Linked DNA regions of Homo sapiens. The protein of the gene in region 1 interacts with the protein of each later gene in a biochemical or structural test. Each region holds a gene or a part of one and is shown on either strand. Other genes may lie near its edges.

Region 1 (3,500 bases):
AGTTCCAAATGTCCCAGCTGTTTTATGCTTTGTCTCTGTTTCCCAGAGACCCTGAGTGTGGTCTAGAGTTGGGATGAGCATTGGTCTCTAATGGTTCTGAAATAATTGTATATTCCTGCAAAAACATTAAGTCTATTAGAAACCAGCTAATTTCATTTTGTCATTTTTATAGGTAACATATTCTGGTGCAGGTAGTATGTTTTTAAAACAAGTTTGCAATAAACAATTTCCCCTCAAGGTTAATATAATAGGCAACACCTTTTGCTGCAACAGACGGCAAGAGGTAATGAAAGATTAGCTTACATTATGATTCATTATTTCAAAATGTCAGGATAAAGTGGATCTGCTGCATCTCCCAGAGAGTGCATGTTTTGCTTTTCTAATGTTAATGGATTTACTGTTTTTTTCCCCCCAGGCCAAATTCAGATAATCGACGCCAGGGTGGCAGAGAAAGATTGGCCAGTACCAATGACAAGGGAAGTATGGCTATGGAATCTGCCAAGGAGACTCGCTACTGTGCAGTGTGCAATGACTATGCTTCAGGCTACCATTATGGAGTCTGGTCCTGTGAGGGCTGCAAGGCCTTCTTCAAGAGAAGTATTCAAGGTAATAGTGTGTTGAAAACGACTTCTATTTTTGATCCTATGAGCAGATCCTAAGAGCCAAAGCGACTGAGGAAGGAAGACATAGAATCAGCCATTTGTACAAAACATGAATCCCTAGTAGGTCCACTAGTATCTTTGGTAGAAACATGGAGAAGAGACAGGATCTCAGGAGAAGGAGTTGACACATGGCAGGGCAGCTGAGGCTGAGTAATTCCGCTTCCTTCCTTTGGCAAGACTCAATCAGTCTTGAGCAACTCTACAGAAGAATTCCACTAGCTGGATCTCTGAGGAAAAAAGAAATGTTGTCTGTGCCCTGACTGGGGAATGCCAGATGGACATTCATGTTTGGTAGGCAACTTTGCCTATATGATCTGGTATATGCTGTTAATTGTCCATGCATAATTATCTCTCTACTCAGGCCTTGTCCAGGCAAATATTCTGTTTTGTTCTAGTTTAGCTTGTTCTCCCCTTTCTCTCTTCCATCTCTTTCTTGTCTCAATGGATGACAGGATATTTTGCTATGAGCTGACTCAGTGGTTGGTGTCTTGTAATGGGGAGATATCATCTTTATCAAACAGTTATTAAGTATCTACCTGTAGCATTTCATTTTCCCGCCTGCCTCCATTGTTTTCTTGTCTATAGTTTGCCAATTATAGCTAATATACGGAGAGCTATACTTTATTTCTACTCCAGAAATGTCTCTATTATTGCATTATAATAGGATACCCTGGGGAAACACTAATCATTTTTACTACCTAAAATACCTATGCTGAATATCCTTTATCTGATAGGAACAGAGATCTGACAGCAGCTTAGGCTAACCAAATTCATTTTTTATCTTAAGTGTGGGGCATTTTTCTCTCTTCTTATTCTTTACCTTTTCAGCTTAAGTGAAGGTTAGTATAAACACTAAGAATATTTCTGATGGAGTTTTCATGTGATTCCTTCTACAAAAACCCAGATTTAAGTAACTTGTTGAAAACCAGAGTCCGCTAAGTTAATAAACACTGATTGAAGAAGTGATTCTCATGGACTTTCTGTGATAGCTCTTTCCTGCCCTGATATGAGATGAAAGCTGGGGGATGGTATATAGTATTTATTTTTCCTTCCGTTGCCAGTGGGACTTTTTTTTTTTTTTTAAAAGCTGTTCATATCTTAATCGAGTAGCATGTGAGGTCAACATGGTCTATTTTAAAAGCATTTTCTTCGACACATTGCTTTTAACATCTTTTAGAACTCTGCTGTGAGACACATGGACTTTTTTGTTGGTATTTTTATACAATTAATGATATTCTCAATAGTAATCTTTGTGTGTGTATATATATAGAAATAAATTCTAAATGTAAGTTAATATATTTATTATTTTTCTAAACATATATAAATATATATATGCACACAGGCTATTTAATTTTATTAGATGATGCTATTTTAATTCAGAAAAAAATGACATTTATATTTTGATTTAGGTTAGTATAAGCCCTTAGAGGTGTTTTGACAACTCTCTTAATTTGTGGTTTTACTGTTTATTTGATTTTATATAATCTAAAATACCATTGTTTTTACCAAGCATTTAATTTGGCAGTGAAAGAGCGTCTGACAGAGGTATGGTTAGTAGATAGGTCTAACTGCACAACTGGATGGATTGAGCTGAGACTGTTTCCTCATCAGTAAAAATGATTTGAAGCAGTGGTTGGCAAAGTTTTTCTGTAAAGGGCCAGATAATAATATTTTAGGCTTTACAAGGGCCATGCAGTCTCTGTTGCAGCTACCGAACTGGATTATAGCCTGTAAGGTGACCTGTAAACACATGGAAGTGATTATGTGCTAATAAAACTTTATTTATCAGAATAGGTAACAGATCAGCCCTGGCCCGTGGCCGATCCCTGATTTAATGTTTATTTATCTGATCTAAATACCTTTATTTATGGAAGGGAATAGGGGATTTTTAAATCTAAAGTTTTGATTATTCACATTTTACTGAGAACTTACTCTATACCTGATTAGATGTTCCGAGAGAAATAAAAAAAAAGTGTAAGACATAATCCATAATACCACAAAATTTAAAATGTATTTAGGAAATTTATTTGAGGAAGTAAATGTACTTGTTCTCATGATACAATCAGAAAGTAAGTCAGTATTGATAAAGTGTTACCTGTATGAGAAAGATAAGGAAAACAATAGAGAGATGTAAGAAATGAAAATACCAGTTATAAATTAAAATTATTAAGATTGAAAGTGGAAATGATCTTCCTCCGAGAAACAATGGCAATATTCTCACAAATTTTTTACATCATTTTTGTTCAGCATTTAAGATAAAATTATATAAATTCCCATAACATTTAGTATTGTCTCTAAGCATTAAGAACAGAAAAAACAGAAGGAAAATATATTTCTAAAAATCAACGAATACAGTGTGAGATGTTTCATTGGTATGGCATTATCTCAAGTTCAAACATTTTGAAAAATGTCTGCTTACTCTTTGATAGTTAAAAACAAGTATCTCAGCTGGCGTGGTGGCTCAGGCCTGTAACCCCAGCAGTTTGGGAGGCTGAGGCGAGTGGATCACAAGGTCAGGAGATCGAGACCATCCTGGCCAACATGGTGAAACCCCATCTCTACTAAAAATATGAAAATTAGCTGAGCGTGGTGGTGCACACCTGTAGTCCCAGCTACTTGGGAGGCTGAGGCAGGATAATTGCTTGAACCTGGGAGGCAGAGGTTGCAGTGAGCTGAGATCATGCCACTGCCGTCCAGCCTGGTGACAGAGTGAGACTCCATCTCAAAAAACAAACAAAACAACACCACCACCACTAACAAAAACCTCTTATCGCCGTCTTGTATACGCAGACCAGCTAGTAGAATTTTACTGAAACAGTAGCCTATAAAAATGCAATT
Region 2 (2,338 bases), on another chromosome or scaffold:
CACTCGTGGGGTCCATTGTGGTCCATATGAAAGCAAGTCTCAGCATTAATCCTGAAGATTAACTGCCCACTTTTTCTTTCAGGAGGATGAAGGAGAAGATGACTAAATAGAACACTGATGGATTCCAACCTTCCTTTTTTTAAATTTTCTCCAGTCCCTGGGAGCAAGTTGCAGTCTTTTTTTTTTTTTTTTTTTTTTTTCCCTCTTGTGCTCAGTCGCCCTGTTCTTGAGGTCTCTTTTCTCTACTCCATGGTTCTCAATTTATTTGGGGGGAAATACCTTGAGCAGAATACAATGGGAAAAGAGTCTCTACCCCTTTCTGTTCGAAGTTCATTTTTATCCCTTCCTGTCTGAACAAAAACTGTATGGAATCAACACCACCGAGCTCTGTGGGAAAAAAGAAAAACCTGCTCCCTTCGCTCTGCTGGAAGCTGGAGGGTGCTAGGCCCCTGTGTAGTAGTGCATAGAATTCTAGCTTTTTTCCTCCTTTCTCTGTATATTGGGCTCAGAGAGTACACTGTGTCTCTATGTGAATATGGACAGTTAGCATTTACCAACATGTATCTGTCTACTTTCTCTTGTTTAAAAAAAGAAAAAAAAACTTAAAAAAATGGGGTTATAGAAGGTCAGCAAAGGGTGGGTTTGAGATGTTTGGGTGGGTTAAGTGGGCATTTTGACAACATGGCTTCTCCTTTGGCATGTTTAATTGTGATATTTGACAGACATCCTTGCAGTTTAAGATGACACTTTTAAAATAAATTCTCTCCTAATGATGACTTGAGCCCTGCCACTCAATGGGAGAATCAGCAGAACCTGTAGGATCTTATTTGGAATTGACATTCTCTATTGTAATTTTGTTCCTGTTTATTTTTAAATTTTCTTTTTGTTTCACTGGAAAGGAAAGATGATGCTCAGTTTTAAACGTTAAAAGTGTACAAGTTGCTTTGTTACAATAAAACTAAATGTGTACACAAAGGATTTGATGCTTTTCTCTCAGCATAGGTATGCTTACTATGACCTTCCAAGTTTGACTTGTATAACATCACTGTCAAACTTTGTCACCCTAACTTCGTATTTTTTGATACGCACTTTGCAGGATGACCTCAGGGCTATGTGGATTGAGTAATGGGATTTGAATCAATGTATTAATATCTCCATAGCTGGGAAACGTGGGTTCAATTTGCCATTGGTTTCTGAAAGTATTCACATCATTTGGGATACCAGATAGCTCAATACTCTCTGAGTACATTGTGCCCTTGATTTTTATCTCCAAGTGGCAGTTTTTAAAATTGGCCTTTTACCTGGATATAAATTAATTGTGCCTGCCACCACCATCCAACAGACCTGGTGCTCTAATGCCAAGTTATACACGGGACAGTTGCTGGCATGTCTTCATTGGCTATATAAAATGTGGCCAAGAAGATAGGCTCTCAGTAAGAAGTCTGATGGTGAGCAGTAACTGTCCCTGCTTTCTGGTATAAAGCTCTCAAATGTGACCATGTGAATCTGGGTGGGATAATGGACTCAGCTCTGTCTGCTCAATGCCATTGTGCAGAGAAGCACCCTAATGCATAAGCTTTTTAATGCTGTAAAATATAGTCGCTGAAATTAAATGCCACTTTTTCAGAGGTGAATTAATGGACAGTCTGGTGAACTTCAAAAGCTTTTTGATGTATAAAACTTGATAAATGGAACTATTCCATCAATAGGCAAAAGTGTAACAACCTATCTAGATGGATAGTATGTAATTTCTGCACAGGTCTCTGTTTAGTAAATACATCACTGTATACCGATCAGGAATCTTGCTCCAATAAAGGAACATAAAGATTTTTTTTGGACTGGGGTCATTCTCCTTGTTTTATAGAGAAATGTTACTTGCTATTGGATTCAGAAATTGTTCTAGTTTTTTGTCTTCACATCGTTAGTGACTGGGGAAGCGTGGGTTAGCGCTAATGGTATGACATTGGTTTAGAAAGCTTTGAGCTGGTCGGTGTCCGAGTAAAGGACAAATTCAAATATCTTACTTGGATACAGTTTCTGAGTAAACAGTTTCTGAGAGGGTGAGTATAGCATTTTCATTCTGAAGTCTCAAAAGGACTTTTCACTAGGAAGAAAATTGAGTACAGTGGGTCCTGTTATCTGCAGCTTCAGCTACATGTGGTCAACTACAATTCAGATACTTTGAGACTACATTCACACCTATACTGTATGTTAAATGTGTGAATGTATAGTTATAGTATACAATAGTCAAAATTATCCTATACCGTTAATCTCTTACTGTGCTTAATTTGGAAATTAAGTTTTATAGGCAGGTACAGGAAAAATTGTATGGGGCTTG
Region 3 (3,500 bases), on another chromosome or scaffold:
TCAAGACCATCCTGGCCAACATGGTGAAACCCCATATCTACTAAAACTACAAAAATTAGCTGGGCGTGGTGGCAGCCACCTGTAATCCCAGCTGCTCGGGAGGCTGAGGCAGGAAAATCGCTTGAACCCAGGAGGAGGAGGTTGCAGTGAGCCGAGATCATGCCGCTGCACTCCATCCTGGGTGACAGAGCGAGACTCTTGTCTCAAAAAACAAACAAAAAAACTGCCACCTAGAGATGGTGGTGGCCAACAGCTTAGTAAGAATTTCTCTTGCATTTTTCTATGCAAACACATTCAAATTTTCATTTTTTAAAAAAGATGATAGAATCATACTGTATGAATTTAATTGCCTAATTAAGCTTGTGTATCATCGTTTCTCTTGTCATTAAATGCTGTACAGCTTTCTTTTAAATGGCTATCTGTGGTAGTGTTCCTTGAAGGAAATACCTTAAAATTTTTTGTTTTTAAACTTTTATAATTGTGGGAATGTAATACAGTGAATGCATAGGACACAAATGTTCAGCTTAAGGAATTATTATAAAGTGAACACCCTGTAACTGCCACTTAGATCACGACATCAAATATGGCCAGCAGCCAGGCGCACCTCCCCTACCCCCCACTGCCCCTTCCCAGTCACAGCCCCATTCTTCCAGCTGAAGGTAACTTCTGTCTTGACTTTATGAAAGTTATTTTCTTGCTTTCCTTTAGATTACCTACCCGTCTTTGCATTCCTAATGCTGTAGTTTAGTTGAGCTTATTTTGAACTTTTCACAAACGGAATCATCAACTATGCATTATTTTGTATCTGGCTTTCATTCACTATTTTGTTTTTAATATTCATCTATGTCGTTAGTAGCTATAGTTCATTCATTTTTTGTTGCTGTATAATCATCCATTTATTGAATGTACTACAATTTGATTCTGCCTTTGGCAGCCACTTTGATTGTTTATAATCCAGATTTCAAATGCTGCATCATGAACATGTGGGTTGTGATTTGTGTAGATGTGCATGTACTTCTCTAAGGAATCCAAGCCTAGGAGGGACGTTGCTGGGTCAGAGGATGTTTGTATCTTCAACTGTACCAGATAAGGCCAAATTGTATTCTCAAATGCTTGGATCTGTTTTCAGTGTACTTGTTCTACTCCTAATTAACACTACTTGATATTGTCAAACTTTAATTGTAGCCATTCTGATGGATGTGGTAGTATCTCATTGCGGTTTTAATTTGCATTATTTTGCATTTTCCTTATTGTTAGTGAGATTAAATACCCTTTTATATGTTTTGGCTACTTCAGTATCCTCTTGTGCAGTGCCTAATTCACATCTTTTATTTTTCTTCTGAGTTGCCTTTTGCCCATTGATTTATATTTGTTCCCCCTCTCTCCCCGCCCCCAAGAAGGAGTCTGGCTCTGTCACCCAGGCTGGAGTACAGTGGCACAATCTTGGCTCACTAACCTCTGCCTCCTTCGTTCAAGTGATTCTCCTGCCTCAGCCTCCCAAGTAGCTGGGACTGCAGGTGTGCGCCACCACGCCCAGCTAATTTTTGTATTTTTAGTAGAGACAGGGTTTCACCATGTTGACCAGGCTTGTCTTGAACCCCTGACCTCAAGTGATCCATCCGCCTTGGCCTCCCAAAGTACTGGGATTACAGGTGCAAGCCACCATGCCCGGCCTGATTTATAAATGTAGTCTAAATACAAGTTCTTTATTGGTTATGTAAGTTGCAGATATCTTTTTCAGCTCTGTAGGTAATAATGTTTTTTGATGAATAGGAGGTCTTAATTTTAATGTAGTTTAATTGATTTGTTTTCTCCTTTGTAAGAATCAATATTTTTCATGTCCTGTGTAAATCTCGTATTGGGATAAAAGATACATATATATTTTTTAGGTTTTGGCTAATAGTTTTCCGTTGGCAGCATGTGAACCTTTTTATGCCATTTTTACTTTCATCAAGGGTGTATGTATGATTTTCTCATACTCTTGTCAGAACTGGAGATTTGGGGTAACTTTGCCAGTGTAATAGACTTTCTTAATTCATTAAGGAGTATTTTATCTTAGTTTGCCCATGAGAGAAGAGAGATTAAATTTGTTTTATTATACCAAGAACATGGCAGTCAATAAGCATAACTAAAAATATTATTTAGCTTTTGATTCTGAAGACCATGTATGGCCAGTAAGGAAAAGAGGTAAAGATGTAGAAAACTGTTTTCTTTTTTTTCTTTCTTTTTTTTTTTTTTTTTTTTTTTTGAGATGGAGTCTTGCTCTGTCGCCAGGCTGGAGTGCAGTGGCGTAATCTCAGCTCACTGCATCCTCCACCTCCTGGGTTCAAGTGATTCCCCTGCCTTAGCCTCCCGAGTAGCTGGTACTACAGGCGCGTGCCACCACACCTGGCTAATTTTTTGTATTTTAGTAGAAACAGGGTTTCACCGTGTTGGCCAGGATGGTCTCAATCTCCTGACCTCGTGATCCACCTGCCTCAGCCTCCCAAAGTGCTGGGATTACAGGTGTGAGTGAGCCACTGCACCTGGCCTCTTTTTTATTAATTTAAGATACATGATTTTGGCTAAAACTAATGAAAATAAATTGATGAAACTTCAATGTAGTGGATCAAGAGACTCATGAAATTGATGAGTTAGATTGTTGTGGGCACCTGTTTTAAATTTATGGTGCCTTTTTAGCAGAATCATGACTTTATCAACTCTTTTTCACATACTTTTATTCAAAGAAGACATTCTCCTCCTCTGCCCCAACTTATCTTCTTCTTGTCTCCAACTGCCAGTATTCTCATCCACACTCTTTGTAGTTTTGAGGTGTGAGATAACTCCCAAGTTCTTCTTGGGAATGGGTAGAGTTTAATTCTGAGTCTACATGTCGTGAGTCTATTGGAAGAAGCTTTTCTTAGGAGGTGAAATTTGGGATGGAGTTCTCCTCTACACTCTAGCCCTGTAGCCACAATCTTTGGTTTAGATCTTTGGCATTTTTTGTTGGACATCTTTCATAGTGTCTACCTCTTCTTCCTGCCTCTAGGCTTCCCGCGGTTGCCAGATGAAATTCCGAAAACTCAAATCATTCCTGTAGTTAATATTCTTCAGTGACTCCGGAACAATCAAATTCTTGATCCCTCCACATGGGTCTTACCATCTGCCCTCGTGCCCTCTCTAGCTTCCTGCATATTGAGTTCCCCACAGCCCTAGTTTCCCTGAGTTTGGAATATTCTTTCACATTTGCTCATCCCACTATCTAGAAACTTCCTACAATCTCTCTACTGCCAACCTGTCTGTCTAGTTGCTAATTTATTTTAAAACCCAGCTTAAGCAACACATCCTTTTGGATGTGTTACTTCCCTGATCGTTATTCACCTCCATGCCGTCTTTCGCTCAACTCATTGAAGTTAGGTGCCCCTCTTCTGGGCTGCCACGGCTCTCCATGTTCACCTATGTACTGTACTTTGTATTGTAATCAGTTTAATTGACCCCCCTACTTATTTGAGCTCCTTGAG
Region 4 (3,500 bases), on another chromosome or scaffold:
CAGTCTCCGCGTCTTGGTGGTAATGGTCCCCCGGGCCCAGCTGTCTTTTCATTTCTTTGCCTTGTGTCTTTACTTCTACAATCTCTCATCTCCGCACACGGGGAGAAAAACCCATCAACCCTGTGGGGCTGGTCCCTACACCCAATCAATTTTTTTTTTTTTTTTTTTTGAGACGGAGTCTTGCGCTGTCACCCAGGCTGGAGTGCAATGGCAAGATCTTGGTTCACTGCAACCTCCACCTCCCGGATTCAAGCTATTCTCCTGTCTCAGCTTCCCAAGTAGTTGGGATTACAGGCGCCGGCTGCCATGACTGGCTAATTTTTTGTATTGTAGTAGAGACGGGGTTTCACCATGTTGCCCGGGCTGGTCTTGAACTTCTGAGCTCAGGTGATCCACCCACCTCGGCCTCCCAAAGTGCTAGGATTGCAGGCATGAGCCACACACCTGACCCAGTTTTTTTTTTTTTTTACTTTTTTTTTTTTTTTTTGAAACCGAGTCGTGCTCTGTTACCCAGGCTGGAGTGCAGTGGCGTGATCTCAGCTCACTGCAAGCTCCACCTCCCAGGTTCACACCATTCTCCTGCCTCGGCCTCCCGAGCAGCTGGGACTACAGGCACCCACCACCACGCCCAGCTAATTTTTTGTATTTTTAGTAGATGCGGTTTCACCATGTTAGCCAGGATGGTCTCGATCTCCTGACCTCATGATCCACCCGCCTCGGCCTCCCAAAGTGCTGGGATTACAGGCGTGAGTCACTGCGCCCAGCTTTTTTTTTTGCGACTGAGTCTCACTCTGTCGCCTAGTACAGTGGCGCAATCTTGGCTAACTGCAACCTCCACCTCCCGGGTTCAAGTGATTCTCCTGCCTCAGCCTCCTGAGTAGCTGGGACTACAGGCGCACACCACCAGGTCTGGTTAATTTTTGTATTTTTAGTAGAGATGGGTTTTTACCATGTTGGTCAGGCTGGTCTCGAACTCCTGACCTCGTGATCCACCCACCTCTGCCTCCCAAAGTGCTGGGATTACAGGCGTGAGCCACCGCACCCGGCCTAATTTAGCTTTTTAAAAGAGAATCGGGCTGGGCACGGTGGCTCACACCTGTAATTGCAGCAAATTGGGAGCCCAAGGTGGGTGGACTACCTGAGGCCAGGAGTTCGAGAACAGCCTGGCCAACATGGTGAAACCCCATCTCTACTAAAAATACAAAAATTAGTCGGGCGTGGTGGTGGGTGCCTGTAATCCCAGCTACTCGGGAGGTTGAGGCAGGAGAATCACTTGAACCTGGGAGACTGAGGTTGCAGTGAGCTGAGATCACACCACTGCACTCCAGCCTGGGCAACAGAAGGACACTACGTCTCAAAAAAAAAAAAATAAAACAAACTAAAATAAAATAAAACAAAATATAAAATTAAAATAAAATAAATAAAAAAAATTTTAAAAAATAAATTTTAAAAATTAAAAAAAATAATAAAATAAAATAGCCGGTCTCAGTGGCTCACGCCCGTAATCCCAGCACTTTGGGAGGCCGAGGCGGGTGGATCATGAGGTCAGGAGATCGAGACCATCCTGGCTAACATGGTGAAACCCCATCTCTACTAAAAATACAAAAAACATAGCTGGGCGTGGTGGTGGGCGCCTGTAGTCCCAGCCACTCGGGAGGCTGAGGCAGGAGAACGGAGTGAACCCGGGAGGCGGAGCTTGCAGTGAGCCGAGATTGCACCACTGCACTCCAGCCTGGGCAACAGAGCAAGATTCTGTCTCAAAAATAAAATAAAATAAAATAAATAAAAATAAAAATAGGCCAGGCACGGTGGCTCACGCCCATAATCCCAACACTTTGGGAGGCTGAGGCAGGTGGATCACAAGGTCAGGAGATTGAGACCATCCTGGCTAACACTGTGAAACCCCGTCTCTACTAAAAAAAAAAATACAAAAAATTAGCCGGGCATGGTGGCAGGCGCCTGTAGTCCCAGCTACTTGGGAGGCTGAGGCAGGAGAATGGAGTGAACCCGGGAGGCGGAGCTTGCAGTGAGCCAAGATCGTGCCACTGCACTCCAGCCTGGGTGACAGAGCAAGACTCTGTCTCCAAAAAAATAAATAAATAAATAATAAAAAAATAAAAAATAAATTTTAAAAAGTAGTAAAATAAAACAAGATAAAAATATATAAAATAAAATAAAATAAAAATAAAAGAGAATCAACCTAGGACTAAGCCGACCAAGCCGACTGATTTCCCTTACAGACAGAAATCAGTATAGGCAGCACCAAGTCACCAGAAGAGACAGGCGATAGGAGAAAGGCCTGGGAAATGCAGGGCACCCCACAGTTAGCAGAGGGGTCCAAGGGCTCTGTCTGACAGCAATGGAACAAGAAAAAGGCCCATGGAGGACCTAACTGGGAATAAACAAACAGGGAAGGGAGGACAGAGGTGGCACTGCCACCCCCAACAAGCCTGCTGCTGCCCACGCACATGGTCAGGAACCACGGCCCGAAGGGAACCCAGAGCCACACTAACTGCTCAGCGTTTGAAGTGCAGTAGTTCAGATGGGCTCTAAGCATGAAAGACTCACCAGGTTTCAAATCTTAGTGATCCTCCCGCAAAAAGCATTATAGCTCAATATTTTTTTTTTCCTTTTGAGACAGGATCTCTCACTCTGTCGCCCAGGTTGGAGTGCAGTGGCTCAATCATACCTCACTGCAGCCTCAATATCCGAGGCCTAAGCAATCCTCCTGCTTCAGCCTCCTGAGTAGTTGAGACAACAGGTACGCACCACCATGCTTAGCTTAATTTTTTTTTCTTGTAGAGACAAGGTCTCCCTTTGGTCTTTAACTACTAAGCTCAAGCGATCCTCCCACCTCCGCCTCCCAAAGTACTAGGAGTACAGGCGTGAGCCACCGTACCCAGCCCAATCTTTCACATGAATTACATGCTGAAAGATAATATTTTGGATATACTGGACCAAAGAAAACATTAATGAAGTTGATCTCATTTTTTTTTCTTAATGTGGATGCTGAAAAATCTTAACTTATAGTTCGCTTTTTCCACTGAACAGTGCTAGTTTAAAGTTGGTTAGGGCCGGGCGCAGTGGCTCACACTTGTAATCCCAGCACTTTGGGAGGCCAAGGTGGGCGGATTACCTGAGGTCAGGAGTTCAAGACCAGCCTGGTCAACATGGTGAAACCCTGTCTGTACTAAACAAAAAAATAAAAAAATTAGCCAGGCATGGTGGGGCGCGCCTGTAGTCTCAGCTACTCGAGAGGCCGAGGCAGGAGAATTGCTTGAACTCAGGAGGCAGAGGTTACAGTGAGCCGAGATTGAGGCCCTGCACTCCAGTCTGGGTGACAGAGCAAGACTCTGTCTCAAAAAAAAAAAAAAAAATTGGCTAATTAAAAAATCTCACAACCAGTTGTGGTCGCTCACACCTATAATCCCAGCACTTCAGGAGGCTGAGGTGTGCAGACAGATTACTTGAGCCCAGGAGTTCGAGACCAGCCTGGGCAA
Region 5 (3,500 bases), on another chromosome or scaffold:
ACCTCAGGTGATCCGCCTGCCTCGGCCTCCCAAGTGCTGGGATTACAGGCGTGAGCCACCGCGCCTGGCTGGAGCCGAAGTTTTTAAATAGTGGGGTGTAAATCAGAAATTTTTAGAAAAGTACAGGTGATCAACAACAAAAAGCAAATGATTCAAAGCAATTTGAGTAGTCAGGAGATAAATTCGTGTTAAAACAGTATTCCTTTTCTTACCTAGCATATTGGCAAAGATAAAGAAAAATAGCAAATTTTTAACAGAGATTCAAGAAAGATTGGCTTTTTTTTTTTTTTTTTTTTTTTCTGGAGATGGAGTCTCGCTCTGTTGCCAGACTGGAGTGCAGTGGTGTGATCTCGGCTAACTGCAACCTCTGCCTCCCGGATTCAAGCGATTCTCCTGCCTCAGCCTCCCGAGTGGCTGGGACTACAAGTGCACGAGATTGGCACTTTTTAATTCGCTGTTGATGGAAATGTATAAGTTAAAAAAAAACCTTCCTCTGCAATTTTTGTTTTGTTTTGTTTTGTTTTTGAGACAGAGTCTTGCTCTGTCATCCAGGCTGGAGTGCAGCGGCACGATCTCAGCTCACTGCAACCTAAACCTCCAGAGTTCAAGCGATTTTCCTGCCTCCGCCTCCTGAGTAGCTGAGATTACTGGCAACCGCCACCACAACCAGCTAGTTTTTTGTATTTTTAGTTGAGACAGGGTTTCGTCAGGTTGGCCAGGCTGGTGTCAAACTCCTGACCTCAAGTGATCCACCTGTCTCGGCCTCCTAATGTGCTGGACTTAACAGGCATGAGCCACCGTGCCCAGCCCCTCTGGAGTATCTTGATAGTATGTGGGTTTTTTGTTTTTCTTTTTTTTTTTTTTTTAACCGAGTTTCGCTCTTGTTGCCCAGGCTGGAGTGCAGTGGCGCAGTCTCGGCTCAGTGCAACCTCCGCCTCCTGGGTTCAAGTGATTGTCCTGTATTTTTAGTAGAGACGGGGTTTCACCATGTTTTCCAGGCTGGTCTCGAACTCCTGACCTCAGGTGATCCGCCCGCCTAGGCCTCCCAAAGTGCTGGGATTACAGGCGTAAGCCATCGCATCCGGCCCTTCTTTTTTCTTTTTAAGCATTAAAAATGTGCATACTCGGGCATGCGCAGTTTCTGTGGGAAAACATGTTCCTTAACTAAAAGGCAGCACATTTGCAACAAATAATTTTTCCCTCAAACAAGGACACTTGGGATAGGAAGAAGGGCAGAGCTGAGGACAGGTCTGATCCTGTTCAACTTTACTAAGAACCTGTTTTCTGCACTTCTACTTCCACAGCTCAGACAAGAACAGAACCTCTTCTGCTTGGGGGTGGGGCAGGGCTGTCTTGTGCGGAATGGCCTCATTCCTGGATTAGGAAGTGTTCCTAAGTAGTGAGGTGTCTCAGATGTTTATAAAGTGACCACTTGTGTAGTGCTCAGGGCATTGTTGCTTCTGTAAAGTGCGTATCATTTGATCTCATGCTGTAAATGATTCTGTCTTCAGGGCGCAAACCAGAAGAAGAGGGTGTGGAAGATAACGGGCTGGAGGAAAACTCTGGGGATGGACAGGTATGTGCAGCCTTGCGAGTGAGTAGCGTGGTGGATGGACCAGTGGCGGTCACATGATGGTTCGGTCTGGTTGTGTCACAGGAGGATGTTGAGACCAGTCTGGAGAACTTGCAGGACATCGACATCATGGATATCAGTGTGTTGGATGAAGCAGAAATTGATAATGGAAGCGTTGCAGATTGTGTCGAAGACGATGATGCTGATAACCTCCAGGAGTCCCTGTCGGATAGTAGAGAGCTAGTCGAGGGGGAAATGAAAGAGCTTCCGGAGCAGCTTCAGGAACATGCTGTAGGTAACCGGCAATGTCTCTAGAATGTGCCCTGAATGTATCAGTTCCACAATTAAAATAGGTGATCAGTTTCATATTGGGAAGTAAGTTGTTCTGTAATGCCAGTTCAGTAGAATAAGGGTCAGTTGGTTCAGATGATTCTGAACCAATTTGTTTTGTTGAAAGGTGATGTCTTATAACATTTCATATGTACTTGCTATCCATTTGCGGCATACAGTATGAGACATTTTGAGGACAACCATTCAGACTCTTCCTGTTGCCGGACTTGATCTGTGGTGTTATGGCCTAGGTACCTTGAAAGCATTGAACTAGGAAGAGGTTAGAAGTTGGTGTTTTCCTGTTAAGAAGCAATTGTTGAGCTGGGTGCCTTGATGCACTCATGTAATCCGGTAACTCAGAAAGCTGAGGTGGAAGGAGCAGCCCAGGAGTTCAAGGCTGTACTAAGCTATGATTGTGCAATTGAAGTCCAGCCTGGGTGGCAGAGTCTGACAGAACCCTATCTCTTGTTTAAAACAAACAAACAAAAAAAAAAACACAGCCAGTTGATACCTATCTTAAGAGTTAACCTCAAGTATTAACCTGGATGTTGTTTTTAAACCTAAATTTTTTTCCTGTTAGAAACATATCAAATGGATAGTAAGATTATAGTGGGTAGTATTTCCTGAATACTACCTACCAGGCATTGGCATTATGCCCTTCCTTTCTTTTTTTTTTTTTTTTTTTTTTTTTTCTGAGACAGAGTTTTGCTGTTGTTGCCCAGGCTGGAGTGCAGTGGCGCGATCTCAGCTCACTGCAACCTCTGCCCCCTGGGTTCAAGTGATCTCCTCCCTCAGCCTCCCAAGTGAGTAGCTGGGATTATAGGCGCCCACCACCAAGCCCGACTAATTTTCTTGTATCTTTAGTAGAGACGGTTTTCACCATGTTGGCCAGGCTGGTTTTGAACTCTTGACCTCAGGTGATCCGCCTGCCTCAGACTCCCAAAGTGCTGAGATTACAGGTGTGAGCCACCGCGCCCAGCATGTGCCCTTTAATTCTTCTAATAGCAACATGAGGTGCTGTTGTCCCCATTTTCAGTTGAGGAAATTGGGAAGGCAAGAACTAAAAAACATCTCCAGATGACACACAGCTCATAACAGAATAAGAACTAAGATCAGGCTAATTCCAGAGGCCATGTACTTAACTTATGTACGATGTTGTCTTGGTGCCATTAATTTGATATTAATTTCATTTACCTGATGATTAATGTTTGTCAGACAGAAAAAGTGATGCATATGAGAAGCTGTGGGGCCCTTTCTGTGTTGGCTCGTGGGGGGCCCTGTTCTTGTCCTGGTCCTTAGGTCTTCCGCAGTGAGTGCTTCTCAAGCAGTCTTGGTGGACAGAAACCTTGTTGTATGCCAGTCAATCCGCTTCTGCATTTCTTCAGAATATTTTTGCATTTCCTCTTGGAACTGATTCCAAGTATCCTTAGAGGTAGCAGATTGTCATATTTGAATGGAGGATTTGAGTCTGAGAAGTGGCTGAGAGTTATTCTGATACAAATAGGGTGTGCAATTTTTGGTGAGTCCCATTCATCAGCTTCTAAAAAGGAGTAGCAGAAACACTTGCACAGCAGCAGGAGTTACTTACCCTTCCTGA
Region 6 (2,296 bases), on another chromosome or scaffold:
GCCTCCTCTGGGAGACTGCCCTGACCACTGCTTTTCCTTTTAGTGAGTGATGTGCCATTTCCTTTCTCTGCCCAGTCTGGGGCTGGGGTGCCAGGCTGGGGCATCGCGCTGCTGGTGCTGGTCTGTGTTCTGGTTGCGCTGGCCATTGTCTATCTCATTGCCTTGGTGAGTGCAGTCCCTGGCCCTGATCAGAGCCCCCCGGTAGAAGGCACTCCATGGCCTGCCATAACCTCCTATCTCCCCAGGCTGTCTGTCAGTGCCGCCGAAAGAACTACGGGCAGCTGGACATCTTTCCAGCCCGGGATACCTACCATCCTATGAGCGAGTACCCCACCTACCACACCCATGGGCGCTATGTGCCCCCTAGCAGTACCGATCGTAGCCCCTATGAGAAGGTGAGATTGGGCCCCACAGGCCAGGGGAAGCAGAGGGTTTGGCTGGGCAAGGATTCTGAAGGGGGTACTTGGAAAACCCAAAGAGCTTGGAAGAGGTGAGAAGTGGCGTGAAGTGAGCAGGGGAGGGCCTGGCAAGGATGAGGGGCAGAGGTCAGAGGAGTTTTGGGGGACAGGCCTGGGAGGAGACTATGGAAGAAAGGGGCCCTCAAGAGGGAGTGGCCCCACTGCCAGAATTCCTAAAAGATCATTGGCCGTCCACATTCATGCTGGCTGGCGCTGGCTGAACTGGTGCCACCGTGGCAGTTTTGTTTTGTTTTGCTTTTTTGCACCCAGAGGCAAAATGGGTGGAGCACTATGCCCAGGGGAGCCCTTCCCGAGGAGTCCCAGGGGTGAGCCTCTGTGCCCCTAATCATCTCCTAGGAATGGAGGGTAGACCGAGAAAGGCTGGCATAGGGGGAGGTTTCCCAGGTAGAAGAAGAAGTGTCAGCAGACCAGGTGAGCGTGGGTGCCAGTGGGGTTCTTGGGAGCTTCAAGGAAGCAAGGAACGCTCCCTCCTTCCTCTCCTGGTCTTTCTCTATGGGACCTAGTAAATAATTACTGCAGCCACCTGAGGCTGGAAAACCACTCCAGGTGGGGGAGGAGAGAGTTTAGTTTTCTTGCTCCTATTTTCCTCCTCCTGGAGACCTCCCTCTCTCGGCTTTACAAAGACACAGATACACCCCGCCCCCCAAAACACACACACACACACACACACACCTCCTTAGGCTGGAACAGCAGAGAATGGAGGGACAAGGGGGCTGATTAGAGCCAAGAAGAGGGAGTGAAGGAGAGCAGAGGGAGGAGGGCAGCCCTGTTTACAGTCACCTGGCTGGTGGGGTGGCAGGTGCTCTCTCTGAATTAACCCTTTGAGAGCTGGCCAGGACTCTGGACTGATTACCCCAGCCTGGGGTGGCATCCAGGGGCTCTAGGAGGTACCTTTTGCTCCTCACCCTGGATCTCTTTTCCTTCCACCCAGGTTTCTGCAGGTAATGGTGGCAGCAGCCTCTCTTACACAAACCCAGCAGTGGCAGCCACTTCTGCCAACTTGTAGGGGCACGTCGCCCGCTGAGCTGAGTGGCCAGCCAGTGCCATTCCACTCCACTCAGGTTCTTCAGGGCCAGAGCCCCTGCACCCTGTTTGGGCTGGTGAGCTGGGAGTTCAGGTGGGCTGCTCACAGCCTCCTTCAGAGGCCCCACCAATTTCTCGGACACTTCTCAGTGTGTGGAAGCTCATGTGGGCCCCTGAGGGCTCATGCCTGGGAAGTGTTGTGGTGGGGGCTCCCAGGAGGACTGGCCCAGAGAGCCCTGAGATAGCGGGGATCCTGAACTGGACTGAATAAAACGTGGTCTCCCACTGCGCCAACTTCTGATCTTTCATCTGTGACCCGTGGGCAGCAGGGCGGTCAGAATGTGTGTGAGGGGGCTGGGGGAGGAGACAGGGAGGCCAGGAGGCAGTAAGGAGCGAGTTTGTTTGAGAAGCAGGAGATGTGAGGAGGAGGTGACATTGGGGAGTAGGGGTGGCCTGAGGAGCCACCTCTGGCTAACCCTGGCAGCACAAGAGGAAGGAGGAAACGAAACCCAGGCGGGCTTTGGAGGGCTAGCGTGACTGGGCTCCGTGACTGAGCTCTGTGTGCCAGTGGCTCTCCCCTCTCCTCGCCTGGCCCACGCCCTCCTTGCCCCCTGGCATGGTGCCCCCCAGGTGGCTCTATTCTTAGCTGTCCGGGTGTGAAGTAAATCCTTGGGCAGTGATAACAGCCCAGAGTCAACAGGGTTGAGATAAGCAGAGGCTGGGTCAGATCCGGGCGCTGGCACCAGGCCCAGCCCCCTCCCTGACCCCGGCTGCCCCACCAGCCTGCTGCCCCT
Region 7 (3,953 bases), on another chromosome or scaffold:
GACCAGTAGCAGTTCCCCTCCCCTGCCATTGTAAAAGGCTTCTCTGATTTAATAGACCGTTTGATCCCACCACCTTTACCTCCCACTCCCAAGAAAATTCTTCTCCGTAATGGCACCACAATGTACCCAGTTATTTCAGTCTCAAACCTGGCATCCCCCTCATTTCCTCTCCCCCGACATCTAACTCCATCACCCACCCCACCTGCTCCACATCAGCCCAAATCTGACCTGTTCTCATTTTCCCTGGGTCCAGTCCACCACTATCTCTAAATGGTCTTCCCGTGCTTCCACCTGCGCAGACCTACAGTCCATCCCCCACACAGCAGCCAGCATCATCTTGTTAAAATGTAAATCGGATCCAGGCTTGCCCCTGCATTAAACTCACCAGTGACTTCCCATCACCCTCAGAATGAAATCCCAGCCCGGGGCCCCATGCAGCCTTGCTTCTCGCCAGCCTCAGCCCCTCCAGCCCTGGGTCTCTGTAGTTGCAAGGCTTGGGATTTCGTCCCCTTAGATCCTTGCAGGAGTACGGGGGAGGGGGGCCCTTCTTGTCACTCAGCTCTCATCCCAAATGCCACTTCCTCACAGAGGCCTTCCCTGACCAACCCCTCAAATCATTATTGGAGACCCTATTGAATAGTAATTAGCCGTGTTTTTAACGGGTGATGTATTCACGTTCCAGCACTTAAAAGCCTCCTCCTGACCCTTGCATTCCTAATTCTCTTCATAATTATGATCTTTTTAAATGCATTTGGCTCCGTGTTCCTCCACGAGAGCAGAGGCTTTGTTCCAACCGCCTAGCACGGCACGCCAGCAGGAGCCCAGTAATTGTTGAATGGCTCAATGTTCGGAGCGCAGGGGCCGCTCTGGGACGAGTCGGATCGAAGTGCTACACCTAGGTTTGTTTCCGAGATGGGCCCTTAGAAATGCCCCCCTGGGGCTCCAAAGGGGCAGATGCCACAGCCGCCAGGGCGGAGCGGGTGTGAGCAGAAGGCTGGGAAAGATGGGACGCCGCTAGGCGAGGGACTTCCGCTCAGAGCTACGGCGGAAATGCCGCTCTTTTAACTCTGGGCCGGTCTCTCTTGGTTCCCCCGCCCCTCCGGGTTCTTCCGCCTCCGAGCCGACACAAACCGGTGCGCATGCGCCGTGCCCTGACCTGGAAGCGGCTGGGGCCGGAGCACACGTGTTTCGTGTTTCGGTGAGTGTGGCGGAGATGGAGAGCCGGGATCCCGCCCAGCCGATGTCGCCTGGAGAAGCGACGCAGAGTGGCGCCCGGCCTGCCGACCGCTATGGCCTATTGAAGCACAGTCGCGAGTTCTTGGACTTCTTCTGGGACATTGCGAAGCCTGAGCAGGAGACGCGACTTGCGGCCACGGAGAAGCTGCTGGAGTATCTGCGTGGCAGGCCGAAGGTGGAGTGGCGGGGTCTGGGGCAGAGGCTGCGCATATCCCGGCAAGGAAGCGGCGGCGGGCCCAGGGAGTTGAGACTGGGGGCACGTGGTCGCGAACCTGGATGCCAGGGTGCGCGGGGGCGTGCACCTTGTTGTCACCATTGAACACGAGGGTGTGCTTGGTTCCGCAGGGGTCCGAGATGAAATATGCCCTGAAGCGTCTAATCACGGGACTCGGGGTCGGGCGAGAAACAGCCCGGCCCTGCTACAGTTTGGCCCTGGCACAGGTGAGGTGGTGCTCCTGGCAGGGTCCCAGCCATCCAGGTCAAAATGGTGGGGTATGAGGAGGGCGGGTGTGGTGTCTCAGCTGTGGCGGAGGGGCAGCCCGAGAGAGAGGTCGGGAGTGGCAGAGCAGACTGGAGGCCAACCTGAGGGAGGCCTCTTCATGAAAGTGGAGAAGGTGTGAGCAAGGCCTGGCCAGGTTTTCTATTTGGTGCTTGGGTTGCCCGGCCTCTTAGGTACACTTTCTGGGAGCAGTGAGCGCTGGGTGGGCTCCCTTAGGCCTGCAGAGGCATTCAGCTGATTGGAGTAGACCACTCTCTGAGGCGCCTTGACAAGGGGCAGAGCAATAAAGACCCAGGCCTGCAGGATCAGCCTGAGGGGAGCTCAGACCACGTGCGGAGAGAAGACCCAGTGGCTGAGCATTTCAGACTAGTAATCTAGGGGCCATAGAAGGTACATAGAAGGTGGGACTAGGGACCTGAGGCTTCTTGGGAGAAGTTGAAGGGGGAAGGGAGGTTAAGGTTTGTGAAGACGTAGTTGGGCCACTCTCCTGAACCCTCTTCCTCCTGCCACACAACTCCTGGCAGCTGTTACAGTCTTTTGAAGACCTCCCCTTGTGCAGCATCCTGCAGCAGATACAAGAAAAATATGACCTGCATCAGGTGAAGAAGGTGAGAGTGGGGCCAGGGAGGTCAGCAGCCCCAGGGGTGGGAGGCTTGGGGAATGGGGAGTTCCAGGGCCCCTCATGCCTGTGCCTGGAATCCTTTTCTAGGCAATGCTGAGACCTGCTCTCTTTGCAAACCTGTTTGGAGTGCTCGCCCTCTTTCAGTCAGGTCGGCTGGTGAAGGTAAGAGCTTTGGAGGGACTGGGGGAATGTAGGCTGGCTTGGGATGGGTGGGGGACAGTCGTGTGCCCTGCTCATACCCTCTGTCCCTCTGTGGGGACCAGGACCAGGAGGCACTGATGAAGTCGGTGAAGCTGCTGCAGGCCCTGGCCCAGTACCAAAACCACTTGCAGGAGCAGCCCCGGAAGGCCCTGGTGGACATCCTCTCCGAGGTATGAGCTCCCCAGCTGTGCGGGCCCAGGCAACACTTTGTTACAGAGACATCAAGGGGGCTCGGATGAGAATCTGGAACAGCACTGTTCCATAGAAATACAAAGATGTATAATTTGAAGCGTTTCAGTGACTTTGTTGAAAAGGTAAAAAGAAACAGGTGTCATTTAGTAACATTTAGTGACATTTGACTTTATCTGGTATATCTAAAATATTATTTCAGTGTGCATTGGTATAAAAAAGTGTTGAGATATCTTACACTCTTTTTGTCAGGTGTCTCCAAAATCCAGTGTGTATGTTACACTTAGGCACACCCCTGTTCAGATTAGCCACCTTTCAGGCGCTCAGCAGCCCTGTGTGGCTGTGGCTACCGTATTGGGCAGTGCAGCTCTGGAACTGTGCCTGGCACGTGGCAAGTATATAAAACGTTTGCCATTGTTATCCTGGTCAAGGCTGGCCCCTTGTGGGCCTCCACTGCCCTACTTGGGAAGGTAGCACCCTAGGCCCTTTTGTCACCGAAGAGAAAGGCAGGGGTAGCAGGTCTCCAGGCCAGGGCTTACTGTGCAGTCTTGACCTCAGAGCCAGAAGGACCTGAATTCGAATCCCAGCTCTCCACCTAGGGCTCCTCGTGTATGAAATGAGCTAGTACTCTGAAATACCAAAAAAAGGAATAATTAAAAGGGTAGCTTTGACCGGGCATGGTGGCTCACGCCTGTAATCCCAGAACTTTGGGAGGCCGAGGTGGGCAGATCACTTGAGGTCAGGAGTTCAAGACCAGCCTGGCCAACATGGTGAAACCCCATCTCTACTAAAAATACAAAAATTAGCTGGGTGTGATGGCGCACACCTTTAATCCCACCTGAGGCAGGAGAATTGCTTCAACCTGGGAGGCGGAGGTTGCAGTGAGCCAAGATCACACCACTATACTCAGCCTGGGTGGCAAAGTGAGACTCTGTCTTAAAAAAAAAAAATAAGGGGTGGGGGGCAGGTACCTCCAGGGGCCAGTTAGCGTCAGTGGGATGCTTGTCAAAAACCCCGCTGCCTGGGAATTTGAGTTTTGTTAGCAACTGGCCTCTGATGACTCTGATACCTCACCAGGTGGCCCCGTGTCAGGAGCAGGTAGAACAGGATCCACCAGGCTCACCCCGCAGAGGAAGTCACGATTTCTTCTCCCTCCATCCTTAGGTCTCGAAGGCCACATTGCAGGAGATCCTGCCGGAGGTCCTC

The links.
Region 2: the proteins of ESR1 (region 1) and SET form a complex in vitro, tested with the Homo sapiens proteins (one large-scale study listed by BioGRID).
Region 3: the proteins of ESR1 (region 1) and ASXL1 form a complex in vitro, tested with the Homo sapiens proteins (one study listed by IntAct).
Region 4: the proteins of ESR1 (region 1) and NELFB form a complex in vitro, tested with the Homo sapiens proteins (one study listed by BioGRID).
Region 5: the proteins of ESR1 (region 1) and SAFB form a complex in vitro, tested with the Homo sapiens proteins (2 studies listed by BioGRID).
Region 6: the proteins of ESR1 (region 1) and MUC1 form a complex in vitro, tested with the Homo sapiens proteins (one study listed by BioGRID).
Region 7: the proteins of ESR1 (region 1) and MYBBP1A form a complex in vitro, tested with the Homo sapiens proteins (one large-scale study listed by BioGRID).

What each region holds. Positions count from the first base shown.
Region 1 is NC_000006.12:151,842,182-151,845,681, forward strand, and holds part of ESR1 (estrogen receptor), read left to right. Parts: intron 1-415; coding exon 416-606; coding exon of another isoform or gene 607-612; intron 613-3,500.
Region 2 is NC_000009.12:128,694,559-128,696,896, forward strand, and holds the end of SET (protein SET), read left to right. Parts: intron 1-82; coding exon 83-106; 3' UTR 107-1,838; downstream 1,839-2,338. UniProt on the Homo sapiens protein: Multitasking protein, involved in apoptosis, transcription, nucleosome assembly and histone chaperoning. Isoform 2 anti-apoptotic activity is mediated by inhibition of the GZMA-activated DNase, NME1.
Region 3 is NC_000020.11:32,424,331-32,427,830, forward strand, and holds part of ASXL1 (polycomb group protein ASXL1), read left to right. Parts: intron 1-3,500.
Region 4 is NC_000009.12:137,258,327-137,261,826, reverse strand, and holds part of NELFB (negative elongation factor B), read right to left. Parts: intron 1-3,500. UniProt on the Homo sapiens protein: Essential component of the NELF complex, a complex that negatively regulates the elongation of transcription by RNA polymerase II.
Region 5 is NC_000019.10:5,640,083-5,643,582, forward strand, and holds part of SAFB (scaffold attachment factor B1), read left to right. Parts: intron 1-1,511; coding exon 1,512-1,576; intron 1,577-1,657; coding exon 1,658-1,864; intron 1,865-3,500. UniProt on the Homo sapiens protein: Binds to scaffold/matrix attachment region (S/MAR) DNA and forms a molecular assembly point to allow the formation of a 'transcriptosomal' complex (consisting of SR proteins and RNA polymerase II) coupling transcription and RNA processing.
Region 6 is NC_000001.11:155,185,324-155,187,619, reverse strand, and holds the end of MUC1 (mucin-1 isoform 10 precursor), read left to right. Parts: intron 1-43; coding exon 44-165; intron 166-245; coding exon 246-395; intron 396-1,410; coding exon 1,411-1,485; 3' UTR 1,486-1,796; downstream 1,797-2,296. UniProt on the Homo sapiens protein: The alpha subunit has cell adhesive properties. Can act both as an adhesion and an anti-adhesion protein. May provide a protective layer on epithelial cells against bacterial and enzyme attack.
Region 7 is NC_000017.11:4,552,585-4,556,537, reverse strand, and holds the start of MYBBP1A (myb-binding protein 1A), read left to right. Parts: upstream 1-1,153; 5' UTR 1,154-1,213; coding exon 1,214-1,411; intron 1,412-1,581; coding exon 1,582-1,677; intron 1,678-2,259; coding exon 2,260-2,343; intron 2,344-2,444; coding exon 2,445-2,519; intron 2,520-2,620; coding exon 2,621-2,728; intron 2,729-3,911; coding exon 3,912-3,953. UniProt on the Homo sapiens protein: May activate or repress transcription via interactions with sequence specific DNA-binding proteins. Repression may be mediated at least in part by histone deacetylase activity (HDAC activity).